7 linked regions of the Homo sapiens genome follow. The protein of the gene in region 3 purifies or fractionates together with the protein of the main gene of each other region. This does not show direct contact. Each region holds a gene or a part of one and is shown on either strand. Other genes may lie near its edges. The genes, in order: VBP1, BTG3, UHMK1, CNOT2, CNOT1, CNOT9 and TNKS1BP1.

Region 1 (3,500 bases), on a different chromosome or scaffold from region 3:
CTTTTTCTGGCTGGCAGCAGAATGAGAAGTTTGAAAGATCTAAAGTGTAAGAAAGACTAGTCATATCACTGCTTTGAAAACAGAAAGGACCATGAGCCAAGGATTGCAGGTGGCCTCTAGAAGCTGAGACTGACTCCTGGACGACAGGCAGCAAGGAAACAGGGACCTCAACCACAGAGAACCGGATTTTGCCAATAACGTGAATAAGGCTGAAATCTAATTCTCCCCCAGAGATGCTAGTAAGGAATACAGCCCTGTTGACAATTTAATTCTGGCTTTGTGGGACCCTGCACAGAGGACCCAGCCAAGCCCATCTGGATTTCTGACCTATACAGCTAGGAGATAATGGATATTGTTTTAAGCCTCTGAGTTTGTGGTAATTTGCTATGCAGTTTCTTTCACTCAACCTTGTTTGTGAAAATCACCCTTGCAGTGCTGGCGTGTAGCAGCAGTTCATTCCTCCTCTGTACTGTATAGTATTCCACAGTCTGAACACATCATGATTTACTCATCCATTCGACTATGATGAACATTTGGGTTGTTTCCAGGTTTTGGTTACTACAGAGTTGATATGAACATTCTTATACCTTTCTTTTAGTTAATATTTATACATTTCTTATATACAGCAAGAGGCAGAAAGAGATAGAGACAGGCATGGAACTGCTATGGCATAGGCAATGCATATGTTCTGCTTTAACAGATACTGCCAGTTTCCCCAGTGGCTGTGTCCATTTACACCTTCACCAACAGTAAATCAGTGTTCTCACTATTCCATGTCCTACCATCACTTAGTATCACCCTACCATTCCGGTGGGTACACAGTGAGATCACATTGTGCTTTTAATTTGCATTTCCCTGTTTACTAATGAAGTGGGACAACTTTTCATATGTTTACTGGCCATTGGGAGGCCCTCTTTTTGGAAGTCACTCACCCATTATCCTGAGGAGTTGCTTATCTTTCCATGTTATCCTTAACAAAAAAGTTTTCTAAAAAATTTAAGTATATAAATATTAGGAAAAAAATGTTTGCAGATTTGGTGAAAGGAGTACACTGTTAAGATAAAATTATAAATATCTGATAAAGTCGATTACATTAAAATTTAAAACTTCTAAGAGCTACCACAAAAGACAAGTGACAGATGAGAAAAAGTATCTGCAATATTAAGAGAAGACTGTGCATCCGAAATACATAATATATAAAGAAGACCTAAATGTCTATCAAAAAAAAAAAGAAAAAGAATCCAACAGAAAAATGGAGCAACAACATAGTCAGGAAGGGAAACAGAAGAGGAAATACAAATGAGCATTTTGTCATACAAAAACCTATAAGATGATACTATTTTCACCTATAAAACTAGCAAAAATCTAAAAATGTGGGTGAGACTGTTAATAAAAGGGTATTTTTATATACGGTTGGAGAAAATGAAAATTGGTAGTCTTTTCTGGAGAGCAATTTGATAGTATCCATCAACATGTTAAATGTGCATACTCTTAGACACAACAATTCCATTTCAAAGCAGCATACAAAAATATGCCTTTGTATACAAGTCTATATGTGCAAAAATATTTACTACAGCACCGCTCACTGTACAAGAAATTTTAAAACAATCCAAACACCCCTTGACTTGGGAATATTATCACATAGCCCTACCACAGAATAGTAAGCCAATAAAACCAAGGAGGCAAACTCTGTGTCTACTCACAAATAAAGACATCTGTGCTGAACAATATACAATATATATCCCATTTTTGTAAAAACAATTAACAAAATTCCAAATATTTAGGTACATACAGATGTACAGACATGATTAAAAGTGGGTGCATCTGGGGATGGAGCAGTAGCCTGCTGCTTTCTATTTGCTCTTTGAACCATTAGCATGTATGAACTCTGATGAAAAACTAACAAAAATGTCATTCACCCAAGAAAAATTTTTACTGAGCACTTATTATGTGTCAGGGAACTGGTAAATACACCAATCAATAACATATCAGGGAGTGCTAAGTACTTTGAAGGAAAACAATACAAGATAAACAGTACAAGTGAAACCAAGAAATGCTGACAGACAAGTCATAGCAGGTCCCTGGGGGAGCTAACAATCAGAACTGAGAACTCAAAGGATTGAGTGTGAAGAACACAGAAGTAGAAATGTGGGGCCACACTGGCAGGTTCCAGGAACAGTTAGGGGGCCACCATGGCTACAGCAGAGTGAGCAAAAGAATGAGCATAAATGAGTGCTGAGAGGGAGTAGGGCTGTCCTGTGGAAAGGACACCTCTGTATTCCACCCTTGGTGACAGGGAAACCACTGGGGTCTTGAGCAGAAAAGCGGAATCATCTGACATGTTTTAAAAGCACTACTCTGGCAGCTTAAGCAGAAGAAAGAGCTAGAATAAAGGTTCTGAGGCAGGGCCATTCCCAGCATGCTCTAAGTCTGGCAAGAAGTCCAAGTGTGGCCAAGCGAGGAAGTAAGAGAAGAACAGAGAGACTGGACACGGTGGCTCATACCTGTAATCCCAGCACTTTGGGAGGCCAAGGTGGGCAGATCACCCGAGGCCAGGAGTTCGAGATCAACCTGGCCAAAATGGCAAAACCCCGTCTCTACCAAAAAATTTAGCTGGGCATGGTAGCACGTGCCTGTGATCCCAGCTATTCAGGAAGCTGAGGCACAAGAATCGCTTGAGCCCGGGAGACAGAGGTTGCAGTGAGCTGAGATCACAACACTGTACTCCAGCCTGGGCAACAGAGTGAGACTCTGTCTCAGAAAAAAAAAAAAAGAGAGAAGTAACAGAGAGTACCAGGATGTATAGGAACTTGTCAGCCACTCAAAGAACTTGGACTTTTCCTCGGAATGTGATAAGAAACCATTCAAAGATTTTGGGCAGAATAATGGAATGACCTGATTGAGATTTCAAAGGATTAATCTGACCACTGTGCTGGAAAGACTTTAGGAATTCCAGCAAGGGCAGAAGCAAGACAGTGAATTAGGGTATTATTATGGGTTAAACAGTGTCCCCAAAAAAGATACATTTAAGTTTTAACCCCTTATACTAGCGAATGTGACCTTACGTGGAAGTAAGGTATTATGGATTGAATTCTGTCTCCCCAACAAAAAATAAGTTGGACTACTAACCCCCAGTAGCTCAGAATGTGACTTTATTTGGAGATAAGGTCTTTCAAAAGGAGAAATTTGGACACATGCATGCACACATGTGAAGATGAAGGCGGAGATCACAGTGATGCTTCTACACATCAACATGCCAAAGACTGTCCGCGAACACCAAAGCTAAGAGAGGAGGCTAGAACAGATTTTCCCTCACAGCTCTCAGAAGGAATCGACCCTGATTCTGGGGCTCATCACGGACTTCTGGCCTCCAGAACCATGAGACAGTCCATTTCAGTTGTTAAAGCCACCCAGTTTGTGGTAATTTTATTATGGCATCCCTAAAAACTAATAGACAGTATTCCCACAGTCCTGGCAAGAGACAAAGGTGGCCTGGACCA
Region 2 (3,500 bases), on a different chromosome or scaffold from region 3:
TTGGGACCAGCCTCAGCAACATGGTGAAACCCTGTCTCTAAAAATGTATATAAATTAGCTGAGCATGGTGGTACACTCCTGTAGTCCCAGCCTCTTGGGAGGTTTGAAGTTGGAGGATCGATCACCTGAGCCCAGGAGGTAGAGTCTGCAGTGAGTTGTGATTGTGCCACTGCACTCCAGCCTGGGCAACAGAGTGAAACCCATCTCAAAAAAATAAAAATACATCAGAATGTTTTATTGTACAACCAATTTCATTGGTACATACAAAAATGTAATCAAAACAATGGACTTTTTTTGATGTTTTAAACAATTTTTTTTTTAGGAATTAGTAGAAAGAAAATAAGGGAAAGAAAATGGGGTTATGTTTATGAATACTTAAATAGACCAGAAGTAGAAAACTGTGGTTTGCTTGCTGGCATTGAGCTGTATTAGGATATTAAATGTGTAGGGTCAAGTTCTGTGATGATTCAATCTTTGCCTTGTATTGATGGCATGTCCAGATCTCTTTGTTTTTATGGACATTTTTTGCTTTGCTGATGTGACTTCAAGATTTGTAAGTTTTTAATTTTATTCTTAGGTATGGAGAGAAAAACAATGCATTCATTGTTGCCAGCTTTGAAAATAAAGATGAGAACAAGGATGAGATCTCCAGGAAAGTTACCAGGGCCCTTGATAAGGTTACCTCTGATTATCATTCAGGATCCTCTTCTTCAGATGAAGAAACAAGTAAGGAAATGGAAGTGAAACCCAGTTCGGTGACTGCAGCCGCAAGTCCTGTGTACCAGGTAACCATGAAAACAGCTCAGTTTTAAAGGGATGTGCAGGGATTGCCAGGACCTTTCAGGTAGTCCTACTTGGCATTGCCCAAGGTTTCTGACTTGAGATTCTGGATAATAGTTCTTGCCTTTCCCCATGCTAAGGGAAAGCTGTTTCTCTGGCACGTAAATAGGCATCCTGAGTCATTTTATCAAAGGTCAGCTTCACTATACAATAACTAGGATAAATATATTTCAGAAAAATTGGCAAAAAGTAGAAAATTCATGATGGTAAAACATTCCTGATATTTTAAAATCTCATTCAAAAGTTACCACTTATTTTTTGTAGTATGTAACACTTTGTTTTGTACCTTTGGGTTTAACTTTCTATTCTCTCCCGTTCCATGATTAAAGAGAAACCTCTCTAAATTTATTATATTATAATTAATATTTTACTCAAGCTGAAACATTGTCTCCCTTTTTGCTTTACTAGTTGAAAAGTCATATAGCTAGTGTGCCTGCACTTACAGATCCATTCACTGATTTACTATTTATATCTACATACCAAAGAACATTTAATCGACTTTAAAAAATTGTTGACCAAACAGCATTCTTCAACAGGAAAGATATTTTAAAGTCATAACAATTTAAAGAGATTTTTTGAGTTGAGCCTTATTCTGTAAATGTACTTATTACTAATTTTTAAAGGTTATCTATTTTTACTTACTTGCTTTGATTAAATGTGAAACATACCAGGTTTGTGGTAAGGTTGAGCTGAAAATGAAAATTTAGACCTAATGAGTAAGAAGCAGAATATTGGAGCTTTTAGTATGATAAACTAAACTTTTAAATTCAGCATACATTTACATAATGAACATTATTTCAGTGTAACTTAATTTTTGGTTTTCTCATTTTTTTCTCAGTTGAATTATTCTTCCTAGACTTTAGGGGAAGATTATTTCTGAAGATTATCATAATTTAGGATTCTATGTATATGTGTATGTATATGTATATGTATATAACATGTACCTGGCTTTATGAAACTTCAAACAGTACAAGACAGTATAATAGTGAGAAGTCCTCTTTCTCCCCAACCACCAGTCCCTATGCATTTCCACAGAGACATTCATTACCAGGTTTTTTTTTCTTTTTTTTAGTATCCTTCCAGAGACATTCCCTATATAAATAAGTAAACATAGTATTTGTACTTCAGGATCATTTTTAAAAACCTTGCCATAAATATTTGAGGCATTTTTTTTCTCTGTGTGATGGATTATATATTGCAAATTAGGTATATTGAATTTTCTGGAATTCATCCAAATGTGTGGCAATTTTACCTCAGAATTTTATTTGTTGTTAAGCAAGAATGTAAGTCTCAAATTAAATTGATTGCTGCTAATTTTTTACAAGCAAATTAACCTTTAATTTTTAGGATTTCTTTTAAAATTAAATTGCATTTATTTTCCCTCATGTTGAAAGACTATTAGGATAACAGAAAGGTATGGAAATTGAGGTGTCTCTTACGTGCTTTTTAAGGAAAACATTTCTCCTTGGCCTAATACTCATTAGCAAAACATTTTATAATAGAGAAACACTACTTGTGTGAAAGCTAGTGCAAATGGCCCACTTTGATTTTCTTCTTTCTAGTATCTTGAATCTGGCATTGCCACAAGCTTTAAAAAAGTTTTATCAAATAAGGACAACAAAATTTCTAGCTTGGAATTTTTGTTCTCTACTGTTTTCTAAAAGGTATCCCAAGAGAGGGGATAAAGAATTATTCATATCTTAAAAAACGAAGAAATGAAGATTGTGTCAGTTCTCCTGAAATAGATCTGTAGATCCAATTCAGTATCAATGAACATCTTAAAAGGTTTTTTTCTGGAAAGTGACAAATTGATTCAAAATTTTAAAAAAGGAGGATCAGTTGGAGGGCTCACACTAATTCAAAGCTATTATATATTCATCAAGACAGTGTGGTAATGGTTTAAAAACATACAAATATATTGATGGCACAGGATAGAGAGTCCAGAAGTAGACCCACATACATACAGTTAGTCTTTTTTCTCCCTTTTAACAAAAGTGCCAAAGCAATTCAATGGGGAAAGTCTTCAAGAACTTGTGCTGAAACAACTGGATGATCTGTGTAGGAAAAAAAACGAACCTAACTTAGCTGACACCATACACAAAAATATTGATTTGAGATGGATTGTGTACCTAGACATAAAAGATAAATCTCTGACGCTTTTAGAAGAAAACATAGGGAAATATAATCTTTATTTTGTGACAGGCAAATATTTCCTCTAGAGGGTCACAAAAAGTAACTAATAAGGGAAAAAAATTGACAAACTGGACTTCATCAAAATTAATCATCTTTTTGTTCATCAAAGAAACCATTAAGAAAATGGGCAAACCATAGACTAGGACAAAATATTCTCATTACATATATCTGTAAAGGACTTATTTCCAGAATATACTTTTTTTAAAATCGCTCACAAATCACTAGTAAAAGGTAAATGATTCAATGAAAAATAATGGGCATATCCTGCTGTAATCTCAAAAAAAGGGCAGGAGGAGCAAAAGATGTGAATAAACACTTTACAAAAGGAGTTATGTGAATGGCCTCATTTATGATCAGAGGAATGCAGATTAAATCCATATGAAACACTAGTTCTTCCAGAACTGCACAATTTAAAAGCCTGACAGCATGAAATGTTAGCAAGGATGTGAAGCAGCTAGATTCATAAA
Region 3 (3,500 bases):
TTTTTATATTCTGACTTGTACTTTTTACTTCTTCTAAAAGTTCTATAATATGCTTGCATTTTTTTAGCACTTAAAATTTTTTTTTTTTTTAAATATTGGCTGGGTGTGGTGGTTACGCCTGTAATCCCAGCACTTTGGGAGGCTGAGGTGGGTGGATTACTTGAGGTTAGGAGTTCAGAGATGGTGAAGCCCTGTCTCTACTGAAAATACAAAAGTTAGCCAGGCGTGGTGGCACATGCCTGTAATCCCAGCTCCTTGGGAGGCTGAGGCAGGAGAAACACTTGAACTCAGGAGGCAGAGGTTGCAGTGAGCCAAGATCCTGCCACTGCACTCCAGCCTGGGCCAGGAGAAATGAGTGAGACTTCATCTCAAAAAAAAAAACTACTTTTGGCTGGGCGCAGTGGCTCACGCCTATAATCCCAGCACTTTGGGAGGCCGAGGCAGGCGGATCACGAGATCAGGAGTTTGAGACCAGCCTGGCCAACATGGTGAACCCTTTTCTCTACTAAAAATACAAAAAATTAGCTGGGCATGGTGGCGCATGCCTCTAATCCCAGCTACTTGGAGGGGCTGAGGCAGGAGAATCGCTTGAACCTGGGAGGTGGAGGTTGTAGTGAGTGGAGGTCATGCCACTGCACTCCAGCCTGGGCAACAGTGTGAGACTCCATCTCAAAAAAAAAAAAAACTACTTTTGAGCCACTGTAAACAGTAACACCAGGCCAGGTGAGGTGGCTCATGCATGTAATCCTAGCACTTTGGGAGGCCGAGGCGTGTGGATCACCTGAGGTCAGGAGTTTGAGACCAGCCCGGCCAACGTGGTGAAACCCCCTCTCTACTAAAAATACCAAAAATTAGCCAGATGTGGTGGCAGGTGCCTATAGTCCCAGCTCTTCAGGGGGCTGAGCAGGAAATTTGCTTGAACTTGGGAGGCTGAGCTGCAGCAAGCTGAGATTGCTTTATGGCACTCCAGCCTGGGTGACAGAGCGAGACTCCATCTTAAAAAAAAAAAAAACAGTAACACCAACTGCTAAATCATGCTTTATTTCAGGTTCAGCTGGAGAAATGTTTTAGTCTAATTTTGTTCTAATTAGGTAGAGTTAGAAAGCCAATTAGGTTAGGTTCTAATTGTAATAGAAACTATCAGTGATAGTTTAAAGAAGGAAAGTGTGCTGGACTGAGAATTCTTGAACCTGAGTTCTAGCCTCAATATGATTAGCTTTGTGATGATCCTCATTTTCTTCATCTTTAAAATGTGTGGGCTAAAACTGTTATCACCGCATTTTCTTTAGAAACTCTAATTCCAAATTAAATTATATGACAAAGAATGTAAGAAGATATTTATTTGTAGTATTTTTATTTTTTGAGAGATAGAATTTTGGTTTGCTTTACCTTAGGGTTTCTCATTCTTGACACTATTGACATTGAGCCTGATAATTCTTTTGTTGGAGTAGCTGTCCTCTACACTATAGAACGTTTAACAGCTTTCCTGATTTCTACCCACTTTGAACAAAAAAAATGTCTCTAGACACTGCCAGATGTCTGTCCTCTAGGGGGTGAAGTCATCTCTGGTGGTGGATTATTTTATTGTATCTTTTTTTTGAGACAGGGTCTCACTCTGTTTCCCAGGCTAGAGTGCAGTGGTGCAGTCTCAGCTCTCTGCAACCTCTACCTTCCAGGCTCAAGTGATCCTTCTGCCTCAGCCTCCCGAGTAGCTGGAACTACAAGCACATGTGCCACCACACCTGGCTAATTTTTTGTAGAAACGAGGTTTTGCTATGTTGTCCAGGGCGGTCTTGAACACCTGAATTCAAGAGATCCAACCCGATTCAGTCTCCCTAAGTGCTGGGATTAAAGGCGTGAGCCACTGTGCCCAGCTATAATTTTATCTTAATAGCTTAGTATTATGAACATTCCTGACAACTGAAAAAATATGAAAACAAAAATATGAGCACAGTTTTATTCTAGTCCTAATGAAAAGTTATTGCCAAACTAGTGATAATAGTTTTACATTTAGTATCACGTACTGAATACTAATATGTATAATTGTATCCTTGCTGTTTAGTCATTTAACTGATATTTATTGAGCATTTATTATGTTCTAGGTACCCATTGTAAAAGTGGTCAAATCAGATTTTTAAAAGTGTGGTGATAAGTGCTAGGGAGAAAAACAGATTAAGGAAGAAACTTAAGGAGTGCTGGGGTAGGTAGGGTGGGTTGCACTTTTAAATGGGTTAGTAGGGAAGGACATCTGAGAAGGTCATATGAATCAAGATTTGAGGGAAGCGAGGAAGAGAATGTTAGGCAAAAGGAACAGCAAGATCCAAGGCCCTGAGTATTCCTGGCAGATTTGAGGAGGCCAATGTGGCTGTAGCAGAGTGAGAAAGAAGAATAGTAGGAGATTAGATCAGAGAGATTAGGGAGTGGTAGGGGGCTTATTAAGTAGAGTGAGCTGGGTAGAGTATTGAGATTACATTGGCTTTTATTCTGAACTAGGGCGAGGTATTGGAAGATTTCGAATGAAGGACTGACATGATCTGACTCAATATTAGCCCCAGTGGTCAAAATGAAGTGGAAGATACAGAATAGAGAGACAGGAGAAGTCTTTTCCAGAGAGAAGTATCCAGGTTTAAGATGATATGAAAAAAGTATCAGTGAGAGGAAAGTTGCTATTTTGAGAAGTTTTCACTGACATTTAAAGGAGAGTGAAAGCAGCTTTTGATAAACTCTTGGAATCACAGATTTAATCTATCTAGGCTTTTGAAAATGTCCATTACCTAGTTGTCGAAGCCATTCTTCATTTGAATTTTTAATTCAAGCAAACATGATTTTATAAGGAATGTTACAAAAAACACTGAAAAATAATGAATGCATCTGATAATGCAATTATAAAAATAATCAGAATTAAAATGATACAGCCCTATTAATTTCATAATTTATAAAAATAAGATGCCTTTCTTAGTGTGGGATGGTGTAGTATAGAAAAGTATAGCCTATCTGAAGCAAGGAGTATGATAGAAAACATGATATTCCTTCTATAAATGCATGTCTACTCATTTATCGAACTTTGCTCTATAGGTTTGGGCATAATTAAGAATCAGGTAAAAAAAAAATCAGGAATAGATTCATTATTCCTTTTTGGGGTGGGGTCAGGGAGGGGACAGGGTCTTGCTCTGTCACCCAGGCTGGAGCACATACAGTGTCGTGATCTTGGCTCATTGCAGCCTCGACTTCCTGAGCTCAAGTGATCCTCCCAACTCTGCCTCCCAAGTAGCTGGGATTACAGGCATGTGCTATCACGCCCAGTTAGATTTTGTTTGTTTGTTTTTGAGATGGAGTCTTGCTCTGTTGTTGCCCGGGCTGGAGTACAGTGGCGCAATCTCAGCTCCCTGCAACCTTCGCCTCCCGGGTTCAAGTGATTCTCCTGCCTCAGCCTCCTGGGTAGCTGGGATTACAGGTGTGTGCCACCTTGCCCAGCTAATTTTTGTATTTTTAGTAGAGAC
Region 4 (3,500 bases), on a different chromosome or scaffold from region 3:
CAAGAGCAATACTCTGTCTCAAAAAAAAAAAAAAAAAAAAAAAGATTTGGGGTTTTTAATCATAATGAAACCACAAACATTTACTGGGTGTTGAGCAGAGGAGTAATGTATTAAAAAAGGATTGTCTTGGCTGTTATATGAAGAGATTGTACGGGAAGGGGTATAAGGACAATCAGGGACCCCCAGTGACTGGCTAATGGAGTATTCAGGCAAGAGAGAATGATTCAAACAAGGGTGGTAGCAGTTAAAAGTAGTGAGCTTTGGTTAGATTCTGTATATATTTTGGGAAAAGCCTGATTATGGGGTATAAAAGAAAGAGGAGTTAAGAATAATGCCAAGTTTCTGGAAGTACAGAGTTACCACTAACTGAGATTGGAAAGGCTGTAGACAGAATAAGTTGGGGGGTGATCATTCAAGAAATATTTAATTGGCAATTGAATGTAGAAATCTCAAACTCAGAAGTGTGGAATGGAAACATATGTTTGGGATTCCTCAATATATATGGTATTTAAAACAATAAGACTAGAAAAAGATCATCAAGGATGTAAATGCAGAGAAGAGGAATGACACTGAGGTCAAGAAGAAAAGGAGGAGGTACCAGCAAAGGAAACTGAAAAAGACCAACCAGTGAAGATGAGGTAAAAATGGTGCTCTCAAATTCAAGTACAAGAATGTGTATCAAGGAGCAAGAGTTCCTCCAAGTGACCACTGAATTTAATAACATGAAGGTCATTTGGTGACCTTGATAAAAGCAGCTTTAGTGAAGTGGCAGGGACAAAATCCTGACTGAAATGGGCTTACCAGAGAATGGGAGAAGACCAAGTCGGAGAAATGGAGATGACTCTTTGAAAAGTTTCGCTTCAAAGGGAAATAAAGAAATGGGAAAGTAACTTACGGAGGAGGTTGGATCAAAGGAAGATTTTCTTCTAAGATGAGAGAAGTAACAATGTATTTCTATGTTGATGAAAATGACCCAACAAAGTGTGAAAATGTGTTGTAAGTAGAACGCATGGGTCAATTATGGTAATAGGGTGGAAAACAAGAATAACATAGGTGTAGGTGGCTGTAGGTAGTCAGATTTGTTGGCTAGACTGTGCTAAATGTGCTCTTCTAATTGCTTCCATCTTTCTTAGTACAGTAAAAGTGAAAAGCAAGATCATCATTTGATAGTAAGAATAAGGAGAAAAGGTATTAGGGGCATGCAGAAGTGTACGATAGTTGCATAAGAGAGCAAAAGAGTAAATGGACTAAGCATGCAAGGTATAATTATCACTGGTAGAATTAAGAGCCTACTTTTGAGGCTCCTGGGCATGAAAATAAAGGAAGACCAGGCAGTGATATCATGTGTTTTTCTCTAGCAGAGCTCAGTAGCACAGGTCAGGAATGAAATAGGCAGAAACAATCAGTACTGTAGCTTTGGCCATGCAAGTATAACAACATGAGAAAATGGCAAGTAGTCATGGGATATGTAAATGAACAATTATGACTGACCACAGAATTTCATGGGTAAGAAGGGAGTTGATCACAGGGGAAAAGAGACGGGGATCTGGAAGAACAGTTAAAATACCGAAGAATCAATAGATTGAAGGTCCCAATGGAGTGAAATGATTACAGGAATCACAGTACTAGAAGAAGAGAAATAGAAAATAGAAAGTGGAAGTCGGAAAGCATGCGAGCTCAGATTTTAAAATTGAGAGACTGCAGTTACGAACAATGACTAGGTCAAAGGGATAACTAAAGGAGTGGCTGAAGTATACTACAGGACAAAAATTCCTGGAGGAAAGAAATTCAAGGAGCTGAGATTTCAGGATTCTGGAAGGTGTGTGTGTGTGTGTGTGTGTATATATATATATATACACACACACATATATACATGCACATGCACACACACACACACACACACACACACACACACACATAAAATGCCAAATTATAAAAGGAATACTGCAGAGTGACAGTGATCTAAGAGCTAACATGAATGGGAATGACCCAGAGAATCAGCAGGTTAACAATGAGTAGCAGTAGGTGAGATAATTTGATGACATGATATTAAAAACTGGAAGTCTGAAGAGGTATTATATACAGACATGGAAAAACAGAAAAAACTTACTCAGGAGAGTTCAGATTGAGGCCTAATGTTGTTAAGTCACTTCCTAATGCAAGATGTACCATTCCTGGGTCTGTCTCTGCTGCCCTGATAAATGTTAACAGGCCAATCATTCCAAATTGGTCCGTCACCATCCCTTGAGGAATGTTAGTAACCCGACCTGGGTAGGAAAAACACAGTTGCTTTTATTTTCAAGAAAAAGTTAAAAAATAGAAAAAAAAGCATTCTATAATATCTTTGACATAGATTTCTAGAGTCCCACCATCAGGTAACACCTGGATCCCTTTTTTCTGCTGGTTATTATTTTGTGTTGTTGAACTTTTATCTCCAGGGAATTTGGGTCCATCTGTACTTGAAGTTGTCTTGCCAGATGTATTCAAATTCTAGCATGAAAAAAATTAAATGTGACATTAAAATTTGTTAAGTATACAAATTCAAGTTCACATATTAATACCTTGCTATTTATTCTTTATTACATTTAAATTGGTAGTTAAATTATTACCTGTTTTTCAAGTTCTATAGAAAATTGTTTCCATCATTGTTCCATGGTATACAAATAAATCCTATATCATCCACATTTGAGTATTTAAAGAAAAAGAAATCAAGGGAAAATATCTTATTTATCTCAGATCTTCAGTCACAGAAAAAAAAAAATCTATCTCTTTCTCAGGTCTTTATGCTTTGGGATACACTTGAAGTTACACTCCTCAATGCTTTCATGTAAAAGAGAAACTAAATATAGTATATTACCTAAAATCACCAAAGCTACCTTGAAGATAAGTTAGACATACAAGCTTTAAAACTTTGTACTTATTTTAATTCTTACCGATCTTCTTTATCAATTATTTTAATAATATATAAACTCCCATCACACACAGAGAAAAGCTATTTTCAGTGAAATGTGGAAGAAATAAACATATTTGTTAAGTCAGAAAGAAGAAGCTGAGTTGGTTGAATCAACACAGGTATAAAAATGTGTATAAATTCTTCAAGGAGAAAACTTACTCAAGAAAAACACAGCTCCTTAGAAGGCTATATTATCAAACTTCATGGGATCCAGCTGACAGGGACTACAATAAAAGTCTAAATTAACTCTGAGAAGTTCAACAGAAATTTGCAAACCTATATGAAATAGGAAAAAAATAGGCTATCTTCTAAGTTATAAAGCTTTTCCACATTCTTCAGAAGTTAGGTTATTACAGATATCAAGATAAAACAGTTTTGTAATAGTATTTAGTAAGTAATTGTTAATATAAGAGAAATCTGAAGGGAAAAACTACATCACTCACATACACACTTCTCAGTTACTTACAGATTTACTGTCATCATTACTTGATGTTGGATCTTTATAGCTGGAGCCTGGTAATGCTGGAAAATCTTCATTGTGTATTGA
Region 5 (3,500 bases), on a different chromosome or scaffold from region 3:
CCTGTAATCCCAGCAGTCGGACGCTGAGGCAGGAGAATCGCTTGAACCCAGTAGGTGGAGGTTGTGGTGAGCCGAGATGGTGCCACTGCACTCCAGCCTGGGAGACAGAGTGAGACCCTGTCTCAAATAAACAGATAAATTAAATAAATAAATAAGCTCACTCTCAATAAAAAGGAAACAGAAAATAAGAATTAAGTATTCTAACACTGCAGGCTGGGCACAGTGACTCACGCCTGTAATCCCAGCACTCTGGGAGGCCAAGACGGGTGGATCACGAGGTCGGGAGTTCAAGACCAGCCTGGCCAAGATGGTGAAACCCCGTCTCTACTAAAAATACAAAAAATTAGCCGGACGTGGTGGCAGGTGCCTGTAATCCCAGCTACTCAGGAGGCGACAAAGCGAGACTGTCTCAAAAAAAAAAAAAAAAAAAAAAAAAAAAAAGCTAACATTGCTAGTTCACATGTAAATTGGTAAAATTTTTCCGAATGCCAGTAAGCATTGGCTTAACTTTATATCCTTTCACGTACCAACTGTACATGAAGCATAACAAAGATTACAAGTCCAAGGAGACTTACTGCAGCTTTATATAAACAAAATGGATCATCATCATCTAAGCATCCAATAAGATATTAAATTTTAGTACACAAATCAAAGGAATACCATATTTAGCACCATAGGTGACTAATTAGGCAAATGAGCAAGTTTTAAGAGTCTGGCCCAATTTTTAAAGTGTGTGTGTGTGTGTATCACAATCTCTCTAATGCTATATGTAGTCTAGGCAATCTGGCAACAGATTCCTAACTATTGTTAGGAAAATGCAAGTATGATCCTGTTATTGCTACTGCTTTCAACCCAGAGGTAATGAGGAAAAGTCCAAGTTCCTTAACATAGACTTCATAGGCCTGCATGATTTAGGACTGGTTATCACCACCACCTCAGAGAAACTCCTGACCTTTAATCAAAATGTGCCTTGTGGTAAACTACTTTTCATTTAAGCCATGATTGCGATTTATAATTCCCTATCTTGTGATAAATGTCCATCAGAATGAGTATTAAGAGGGCAGGAACCATCCATTTTGCTCACAATTGTATCCCACATTTAACACATTATTGGACATGTAAAAGATTTTCACTGAAGGCCGGGTGCAGTGGCTCACGCCTGTAATCCCAGCACTTTGGGAGGCTGAGGCGGGTGGATCACTTGAGGTCAGGAGTTCAAGATCAGCCTGGCCAACATGGTGAAACCCCGTCTCTACTAAAATACAAAAATTAGCTGGGCGTGGTGGCAGGCGCCTGTAATCCCAGCTACTTGAGAGGCTAAGGCACGAGAATCGCTTGAACCTGGGAGGCGGAGGTTGCAGTGAGCCAAGATGGCGCCACTGTACTGCAGACTGAGTGACAGAGCAACACTCCGTCTCAAAAAAACAAAAAAAAAACCAACCAAACGGATTTTCACTGAACACTGAAAGCATAAAGAGGAAAAAAAAAAGATGAAAGGGAGGAGATCCTTTTGAAGCATTTAAAAAATAAGCTGCTCGCTTACCTTGTGATCTGTTCTTGGATGGCTTCCGTATTGGCCTCTGCAAAAAGGTACAGCATGGTGCAACTGAAGTAGTGAGTGTGGCTATTTGGGTACCGGAGCTGATTTGCAATTGCATTCAAAAAGAGATAGCGACCTAGAAATTAAGAAACCTTGACTTAGGACTTAGTCTGAAAGGCCAACATGGGAAGACAGTTCTAACTGGCTAGGGTTTGGGTTTCTGACAGAGGCTTTCAAATTAATCTTTGGTTTAAAGCAGTGGTTCTTGGGACCCCAAAGAGTTCTCATTTCTGTGCGTTTTATTTCAGAATTTTCCACATTAGAAATTAGATTTTAAAAATATTCATTTTTAAAAACAGACCCACTATGTGCTAATGTAAGAAACATGAACTATTTTCTGGTGACACTCATCACTAAGTCTTTCTACATTTTGCAGATCTCTAAGTCTTGCTTAATAAAAGACAGCTGGATTCTCATTTCTGCTTCTGTGTTCAACTTGTTACAGTATATTTCATGTAACCTCTGAGAAATTCAACTGTACACTCATGACAGAATAGACCCAAAAATGTAAATGTTGTTTTATGATGAAAACAGTTTTGGGCCGGGCACGGTGGCTCACGCCTGTAATCCCAGCACTTTGGGAGGCTGAGGCAAGTGGATCACTTGAGGTCAGGGGTTCAAGACCAGCGTGGCCAACATGGTGAAACCCCATCTCTACTAAAAATACATAAAAATTAGCTGGGCATGGTGGCGTGTGCCTGTAATCCCAGCTCCTCGGGAGGCTGAGGCAGGAGAATCGCTTGAACCCCTGAGGCGGAAGTTATGGTGAGCCGATATTGCGCCACTGCCTTCTAGCCTGGGTGTGAGAGCAAGACTCTATCGCAAAAAAAAAAAAAAAAAAAAGTTTTGACCTCACAGCCCTCCTAAAAAGGTCTTGACACCCTAAGGGTACCCAGCCCACATTTTGATTAGTCTAAACTACACTGGAATAAGTATTATCTTAATTGGGTTTGGTTGTTTGCCTCTGCTTGACATTATTCGTGTTTGTGAGTCTGTCACAGTGACACGTTTCTCTAAAGGCTGCCGTCCTTTTATTGCCGAGCTCTTGGACGTGATGGTATTCAATTTTGTTATATCTTGAATTTAAGCTGTCTTAAATCCATCCCACATATAGGCATGCAGCATATATGCAACATCAATTCATCTCTCAAGAATCAATAGCAAAGTTAAAGAGTAGTGTCCCCCTAAAATATATGTATGCAAAACTGGACAGGACTGTACAACTAGTTAGCACCTAACTGGGGTCTCTATTTTATAAGATAAATATAGAGGACCAAATGAAATGTAGCTCAAGCAGAAAAGCTGCAACCTGCAACAGGAGTTATACTGTGAGCTTTTTGCAGAACAGGAGAGTCCTATTCATTAATCTTTATACATGAACATTTAACAAGATGCCTGCCAAACACGCACCAATAAAAATGCTTATATAAGGCAGCCTAACAAAACAATGTAACAAGAGGCTATGTTTAAAGGGACTTTAAGTTTATTTTCACACTAAAAAACTTCAGTCACATACACCAAAACTGATACTGCACGATTCTGGATAATTCTTTCCTTTATGCTTTTTTGTATTTCCTGCACTGAGCAGATAATGTCCAATTAAAGATAAAATAATCAGCTAGACCTGTGAATAAATATACTGACAGAACATTCCTTCACTATTGTGGCTTGAAGCATTTTTACATTTTTGTGATCAGATTGTAGCAAAAAGCACAGAGAACTCTACTCTGAAAACTGGCAGGCTTCACTCACCCTCAGTGTCCAAGTCCACAGCCAAATTCTGGAAGATATCCATGTGTGCTGAGTGAGTGATGGTGCTCATTGAAGGTGTGCTGCCCTTGTTGTGGATGTGCGCAATGGCCTGAGTCCCGACATAGAGCACCAGTGCATTGATGAGCTG
Region 6 (3,500 bases), on a different chromosome or scaffold from region 3:
CCCCCAAAGTGCTGGGATTACAGGCATGAGCCACTGCGCCCGACCTTGCTGTTGTCATTCTTGATGGAATACATCCTAACATCTTCATATATTCATTACCGCTACCATTGAGCATAATTTCTTTTTTCTCTCCTCTAATAAATAAGGACAGAAGTACCACACAGGATTATTCTAAAGATTAAGTAAGAATAACAAAATGCGGCCGGGTACTGTGGCTCATGCCTGTAATCCCAGCACTTTGGGAGGCCAAGGCGGATAGATCACCTGAGGTCAAGAGTTCCAGACCAGCCTGGCCAACGTGGTGAAACCTCATCTCTACTAAAAATACAAAAATTAGCTGGGCATGGTGGCAGGCGCCTGTAATCCCAGCTACTCAGGAGGCTGAGGCGGGAGAATCACTTGAACCCAGGATGTGGAGGTTGCAGTGAGCCAAAATCGTGCCATTGCACTTCAGCCTGGGAGACAAGAGCAAGACTCCATCTTTAAAAAAAAATGAAAGAAAGAATAACAAAATGCTCAGTGGTTGGCTAGATTCACTCACTGATATGTGACTTGTTCCCAGACTTCAGCTTTGGGAATTTAATTCCCAAATTAAAGGCTCACACACCTATAATCCCAGCACTTTGGGAGGCCAAGGCAGGAGGATCACTTGAGGCCGGGAGTTCAAGACCAGCCTTGGCAACACAGTAGGAACCTATCTCTACAAAAAATGTTTAAAAATTTTCCAGGCTGCAGTGAGCCATGATCATGCTACCGCACTTCAGCTTAGGCGACATAGTGAGACCCTGTCTCAAAGGAAAAAGAAAACTACAAATCTTTGCATGCCATAGGTATTCTGTAATGGATGTTATGCTTGTGAAACAACCGGAGGTAAGCCTTTAGGGGATGTGTTTTTGTTTTGTTTTGTTTTTAATTTCCCACTGATTTCCACTGACAATTCTAGCATCCCTAAACACTTGTCTTTCTCTCACTTTCCGCCTAACCAGCAGCATCATTAGTTATTTTACATCTTTTTATTGAAGCTGTCATGGACTGCCAGATGCCTTCCTTTTTGGCAAGTAGAAAGAACACTGCACTCTAAAGGATTTAATTCACTTTCTCCTCCCGAGTCTCCTGATGAAGCTTTAGGCAAATTGCCTAACTTATCTTTCCTTATTCACTTTCATTTTTTAAAAGTTATTTTGAAAAAATACATTCTGGGCCGGGCATGGTGGCTCATGCCTGTAATCCCAGCACTTTGGGAGGCTGAGGCAGGTGGATCATAAGGTCAGGAGTTCGAGACCAGCCTGGCCAACGTAGTGAAACCCCGTCTTTGCTAAAAATAGAAAAATTAGCCTGGCGTCATGGCATGCGCTTGTAATCCCAGCTACTTGGGAGGCTGAGGCAGGACAATCGCTTGAACCTGGGAGGCGCAGGTTATAGTGAGCTGAGATTGTGCCATTGCACTCGAGCCTGGGCAACAAGAGCGAAACTCCATCTTAAAAAAAAAAAAAAAAAAAAGATACATTCTGGCTCTTATAAAATTATGAAGGTAAGCTAATTTAGTACTTCCAGCACTATTAGAAAGTTCATTTTCTTGGAATACCATGCTGACACCCAAATCCACGTGTTGATCTCCAGACTTGGGAAAATAATCTCTATTTCAGTCTGATTCCATTCTTTATGTATTGGCAGGAAAATAAACAGCTATTTTGGCCCTTAAACATAAAGTTACATTGATAATTTGGCTATTTTCTGTTTAAGAAACCATCAGCATCAATTTTTTAGTTTACTCAGAGAAGGAAATCATTTTCTTTACCATTTATAGATAAATGTCATGTTTTATTTAAAATAATTTATAAACATCTTTATACTTTTCACATTATGTGTTAAAATCTTTCAGAAATAGAAGACCAACTTAAACTGTCAGTACCCTGTGTGACACTTGGAGTTAACCATTGGTAACTTACTTTGGTAAATACCTTATCTGTATGTTAAGCTTTCTTGGGGAAAAAAGGTGTCATTTGAAATACATTTTCCATATACAAATCATTAAACAGAAAAGGAGGGAGAGTTACCACCTAAATTTTGATAATATGAAAGTTTTTTAACACACTTATTAAAAGAACAGGACTGTTGACTTTATTTTTTTATTTTATTTTATGTTTTTGAGACAGGATCTCGCTTTGTTACCCAGGCTGGAGTGCAGTGGTGTGATCTTGGCTCACCGCAACCTCGACCTTCTGGGTTCAGTCGATTCTCCCACCTCAGCCTCTTGAGTAGCTGGGATTACAGGCAAACGACACCACACCAGGCTAATTTTTGTATTTTTAGTAGGGGCAGGGTTTCACTGTGTTGAAACTCCTGACCTCAAGTGATCCACCAGCCTCAGCCTCCCAAAGTGCTGGGATTACAGGTGTGAACCTGTCTCTGTGCCTGGCCAGGACTGTTGACTTTAGCAGGTTACAATTAATAATCTACGGTAATGTACTATAGAGCTTTTTTCTATTCTTGGAAGTGTTAAGGATAACTCATAATCTAAATCAGATTTCTCATGATGATTCTATGTGTCCAGGTATGTAATTGAGCTCACTGTGTATCCAAATCCAGCTGTTAATGAGTTCTGTGCTAAGGGAATATTAAATTTAAGAAAGTTTTTTTGGGTTCTTAAGAGTAATTTCTTCAACTTGGAGGAGTATTTGTGCTTTCTATCCTTGAGACCAGATAGAACTCATCGATTCTAGAGAGAAGTAGAGTTTCAGTCTCATTCTGCTGTACACTGGCTGTGTGACCTTGAGCACATTAAACCTCTATTAACCTGTTTCCTCTTAGAATTTTGAGAATAAAATGATGTAATCCACAGTGCCTGAAACATGGTATGCTCAATAAATATTACTGCATATTAATAATTTCTGGAAAAGGCAGACCTAATCTATAGTAGCAGAAAACACCCATGATTGCCTCAGGCTGAGTATGGGGTTTACTGAAAAGGGCATTAAAGAACTTTTTGGGGTGAATGGATCTATATCTTCATTATGGTAGCAGTTACTTAGGTGTATAAATTTCTCAAAAATCTATTGAAGCGTACACTTAAAATGAGTTCACTTTTATTGTATGCAAATTATACGTCAAAGTTTTTTTTTTAAAAAAAGAGCCTCTTAGATTAGACTCTCACAACTAAGAACTAAATAATTTCTAAGATTTTAGAGTTGCCTGAGACTGACAATTATTTAATATAGTTCCTTCACTTTAACAATGAGAAAATTGAGGTTTGGAAAGTTAAATGACTTATCCTAGGTCACACAATTCTAGAAAGAGCAAAACTGGATTTTGAAGTCACTTCAGGCTCCCACGCCAGTGTGTGTTCCAATTATATACACATGTAGTTCCTTGCAAATTGAGGTCTTTCCTGTTCTTCAATTTGATAAACAGATTCTTAATCCTGGGTACATGGATACATTGCAGGAACTCTGTGAACTCCTTAAAATTATGTGTAGGTTTTCGTGTTTTTGCAGTTGTGT
Region 7 (3,500 bases), on a different chromosome or scaffold from region 3:
TAAACTACAGCACCCACAATTCTTTCTTGTTATTGACCCTTACGCACCCATCATTCCTTGAAAACCATAACCGCTGCATCACTGCAACCCTCTCCATCATTGTTGTGATAGCTTACAGTCATCTCCATAGCCAGATGCGACCCTTCCAGCCTCTGGTTCGTTGACCTCCTCTTCCTCAGTGACTGTGCGACCCATCCTCTCAAGGTCACACCCTAGACCTCATCCTTACCAGTGGCTGCAACCTCTGCATCATCTCAATCCCAAGTATCCCACTTGCCCACCCCCACCGCCTATCTGACCGGCTCACTCTATTTCCCCAACGCCCTTATTTTCAGCCCCTCTCATAGCACAGCCCCTTAACCCTAATTCTTTCTCATTGTCCCCCACTCCCCTCATACCCTCACCTCTCTTCTTATCACCATTAACGTCACTTTTTACTCAACACTCAACTCCCTCATCTGCTTCATCATACTGTTTAACCTGTTTAAATACAGCTCTCCAATACAGCTGGGCCAATCCTAGCCCAGCACCTGAGTAGCTGCATGTGGCTGGATAAAAACACACAATCGTGACAGCTGGTCTCACTCCAGATTCACTGCTGACCTCAAGCCGGCCCTAGAGCTGCCCAGAATCCCACGGCACTCCCCCTGCCATTCACTCCATGACTCTCCCAGGCAATGTTTTAGCATCTTCTCCCGTCAGACCTCCACACCTCCCCCAATCCTCTCTCAGCTGATGGCCTTGCTTCCTGTTCCCTGAGAACACAGAGGCCACCAGCAGAGAACCCCCGACAACCCCCCCACCGCCACACACACACACACCACCTACTTCCTGCATGGGAGCCCAAGCACTCTGCCTCCCCTTCTGCTATCAGGCACTGTCCTCGCTTGGGGCTGAGGTCAATCCCTCCTCTCTCTCCTGCATCGATTTTTTTTTCCCTCTCTACTGGATCATTTCCATCAGCACACAAACTGCTCTAATTTCTTCTGTCTTGAAAAGCCAAAAAAGCAAACCAAAAAACCACTCTTGACCCCACATCACTCACTAGCTACCATCCATTTTCTTGAAAGCCCTGTCTATATTCACTATTAATATCCACAGTTCTTCTTGTCCCCTTCTCTCTTGAAACCACTCCAAACAGGCTTTCTCCTTTACCTTGCCACCTAACTACTCTCGTCAAGGTCACGGATGACCTCCCTGGAGCTGAATCCAATTCTCTGTGCTCATCTTACTTGACCTGTCAGTGGCATCTGACAGCTGATGGCGCCCTCCCCCAGTCCTGGAGGCTGTCTCCACTTGGTGGACTCTCTCACTGTCCTCCCAGTCTCCTTGGCTGTGCCTCTGGGCCCTCCCCTCCTGCACCATCCCCACTCTCAGTAATCTCAGCCAGTCTTCACAAGCATTCCTACTCTGACAATTCCCAAGTGTTCCTTTCAAATTTGCTCACTTCCCTTGAAGGCCAGACTCGACTACCCAACCATCCGCTTGACGTTTCCACATGGATGTCTGAAAACCATCTCAAATTCAACAAATCCACAAAGCAAACTCCTCCCATCTCCCCCGATCCTGCTTCACCCTTAGAAGTCCCCGTCTCGGCAACCATAAACTCATCCTTCCGGTTGCTCAGGCCAAAAGCCGTGGGGTCACCCTTGATTCTGTGCTCTCTATCTATCTGAAAGTCCTTTCCACCATGCCTTCAAATTCTATCCAGAACCAACCACTTCTCCCCATCTCCACCGTAGGCTACCTCCAGGGTCCAAGCCGTCATCATCTCTCACTTGGACTATTCCAACAGCCCCCTGACTGGTCCATGCTGCTGATCTTACCTCCCTGCAACTGATTCTTAATCCAGTGGGCCAGGTGACTCTTCACAACTAAGACAGCAGCATCCCATGCCTCTCCTGCAAACCCTTCAAATGGCCTGTTGCTCTCACTGAAGCCAAAGTCTTTCTAGAGGCCTTCGAGACTTGACACAATCCAACCCCCCAACCCGTTGGTCCTCACTACCACCTAACTCCTCTCTCACTGCCAGGCAGACATCCTGGCCTCCTTGCCAGGAAAGCACCAATGCCTTTGTACTTGCTGTGCCCTCTACCAAGAATGCTGCTCTCCAGACATGCACACAGCTCAGCCTCTGCCCTTCACAGTGACACCTTCCCTGACCACACTCGTCCCTGCACTCTCTACTCTACCTTCACAGCTATCTCCAACATCCAGCTCCTAACAGGCGCTCAGTCACTGCTTGCTGGATGGACAAATGAATCAAGTCAGATCTCCAGCTAGCAAGGGCTGTATGAGCAAAAAGGGCCATCCTGTACCTTGTTTACTCAAGAAAGCAGGCTGACCATCTTCAAGAACGGGAGTATGATGGGAAAATCTCAGCAAAAGGACTCACCCCTCTTCTGAACTCAGAAAAGGCAGCCCAGCCAGGGAAAGCATGGGAGGCAGACACAGTAGCTGCTGCCTCAGCCTAAGTTACTTACCCTTTGTGAGTACAGGTGCTCTCATCTCTCACATGGGACTAACCAGGTCTACTAGCCAGAGTTATCACAAGGATTGAGTTGGTTAACGTTCCCAGGACAGGCCCAGCACATAGTAGGGACTTAATCAATGGCAGTTGTTGTGGATACTATCATTACTGTTTATGATGAATGGCCTCATGGCCTTAACCACACCTAGCCACTTTGGTGATCAAGAGCACTGGCCCAGGAGTCGAAAAATCCCAGGGCCAGCCCTCCAGTGAGTCACTCTCCCCATGGGCCTCAGTTTCCCCATCTGAACTACAAGGAGTAGAAAAGATGATCTCATATGACCCTTCCAGCTCTAAAATACGTGATTCTGATTCATAACTGGAGGATAACTCACATCAGCAGGTAGCTCCGAGCTGGCTGCCTTAGCCAGGTCCCCGTTGAAGGCCAGGTCGGAAGGAAGGCTCCTGTGAGGGACGAGGACAGGAAATGGAAGCACGGAATGTTAGAGTCTGTCACAGAATGGAAAATGTGGGAGAGTCTCCCAGTGCAACTTTAACAGCACCCAAAGGTTAAACCCTCCTAGCCATTTACTCTTGAGCCCTGCCTGCAACTATTAGGGACACAGAATCTGTCCATTTTCCATTCGGCAAGTGCCCCAGAAAACAGTGCTTATTCCCTACCTGAGCATGAAGGGTTAAATTCCCCAGCTACTTTAGGAAAAGCATCCTGGATGCCCAGACCTCTCAACAGCTCCTAAAAAGATAACTCCTCTTTCCTTTAACCCATAAGGAGTTAAAGTTCTCCTCTAGCCAGGAAGAGTGCAGCTGGTCCTGCTGCCCTGCCAATACTTCTTGAAGAATTGCAGTGGGGGAGGGGAAGAGGAAAGAGTGATTTTCCAGGGTTGAAGTTGTTCTTAAGCCCTACTTGGAGTGAGGGAGAGAAGGAAGATGGCGGGTGGAACCCAGCCTGGGCAAGAGTGTGACCTCACAGCACCCTGGTCTGGGACAGGCAAAGGACTAGCTCTGGGGC

The links.
Region 1: the proteins of UHMK1 (region 3) and VBP1 purify together in Homo sapiens (affinity purification with mass spectrometry; one large-scale study listed by BioGRID and IntAct). This does not show direct contact.
Region 2: the proteins of UHMK1 (region 3) and BTG3 purify together in Homo sapiens (affinity purification with mass spectrometry; one large-scale study listed by BioGRID and IntAct). This does not show direct contact.
Region 4: the proteins of UHMK1 (region 3) and CNOT2 purify together in Homo sapiens (affinity purification with mass spectrometry; one large-scale study listed by BioGRID and IntAct). This does not show direct contact.
Region 5: the proteins of UHMK1 (region 3) and CNOT1 purify together in Homo sapiens (affinity purification with mass spectrometry; one large-scale study listed by BioGRID and IntAct). This does not show direct contact.
Region 6: the proteins of UHMK1 (region 3) and CNOT9 purify together in Homo sapiens (affinity purification with mass spectrometry; one large-scale study listed by BioGRID and IntAct). This does not show direct contact.
Region 7: the proteins of UHMK1 (region 3) and TNKS1BP1 purify together in Homo sapiens (affinity purification with mass spectrometry; one large-scale study listed by BioGRID and IntAct). This does not show direct contact.

The regions. Positions count from the first base shown.
Region 1 is NC_000023.11:155,229,960-155,233,459, reverse strand, and holds part of VBP1 (prefoldin subunit 3), read right to left. Parts: intron 1-3,500. UniProt on the Homo sapiens protein: Binds specifically to cytosolic chaperonin (c-CPN) and transfers target proteins to it. Binds to nascent polypeptide chain and promotes folding in an environment in which there are many competing pathways for nonnative proteins.
Region 2 is NC_000021.9:17,595,902-17,599,401, reverse strand, and holds part of BTG3 (protein BTG3), read left to right. Parts: intron 1-577; coding exon 578-785; intron 786-3,500. UniProt on the Homo sapiens protein: Overexpression impairs serum-induced cell cycle progression from the G0/G1 to S phase.
Region 3 is NC_000001.11:162,518,318-162,521,817, forward strand, and holds part of UHMK1 (serine/threonine-protein kinase Kist), read left to right. Parts: intron 1-3,500. UniProt on the Homo sapiens protein: Upon serum stimulation, phosphorylates CDKN1B/p27Kip1, thus controlling CDKN1B subcellular location and cell cycle progression in G1 phase. May be involved in trafficking and/or processing of RNA.
Region 4 is NC_000012.12:70,337,433-70,340,932, reverse strand, and holds part of CNOT2 (CCR4-NOT transcription complex subunit 2), read right to left. Parts: coding exon 3,420-3,500; intron 3,178-3,419; coding exon of another isoform or gene 3,148-3,177; exon of another isoform or gene 2,514-3,147; intron 2,491-2,513; coding exon 2,370-2,490; intron 2,268-2,369; coding exon 2,111-2,267; intron 1-2,110. UniProt on the Homo sapiens protein: Component of the CCR4-NOT complex which is one of the major cellular mRNA deadenylases and is linked to various cellular processes including bulk mRNA degradation, miRNA-mediated repression, translational repression during translational initiation and general transcription regulation.
Region 5 is NC_000016.10:58,521,827-58,525,326, forward strand, and holds part of CNOT1 (CCR4-NOT transcription complex subunit 1), read right to left. Parts: coding exon 3,353-3,500; intron 2,017-3,352; exon of another isoform or gene 1,677-2,016; coding exon 1,544-1,676; exon of another isoform or gene 1-1,543.
Region 6 is NC_000002.12:218,571,839-218,575,338, forward strand, and holds part of CNOT9 (CCR4-NOT transcription complex subunit 9), read left to right. Parts: intron 1-3,500. UniProt on the Homo sapiens protein: Component of the CCR4-NOT complex which is one of the major cellular mRNA deadenylases and is linked to various cellular processes including bulk mRNA degradation, miRNA-mediated repression, translational repression during translational initiation and general transcription regulation.
Region 7 is NC_000011.10:57,314,953-57,318,452, forward strand, and holds part of TNKS1BP1 (182 kDa tankyrase-1-binding protein), read right to left. Parts: intron 2,936-3,500; coding exon 2,866-2,935; intron 1-2,865.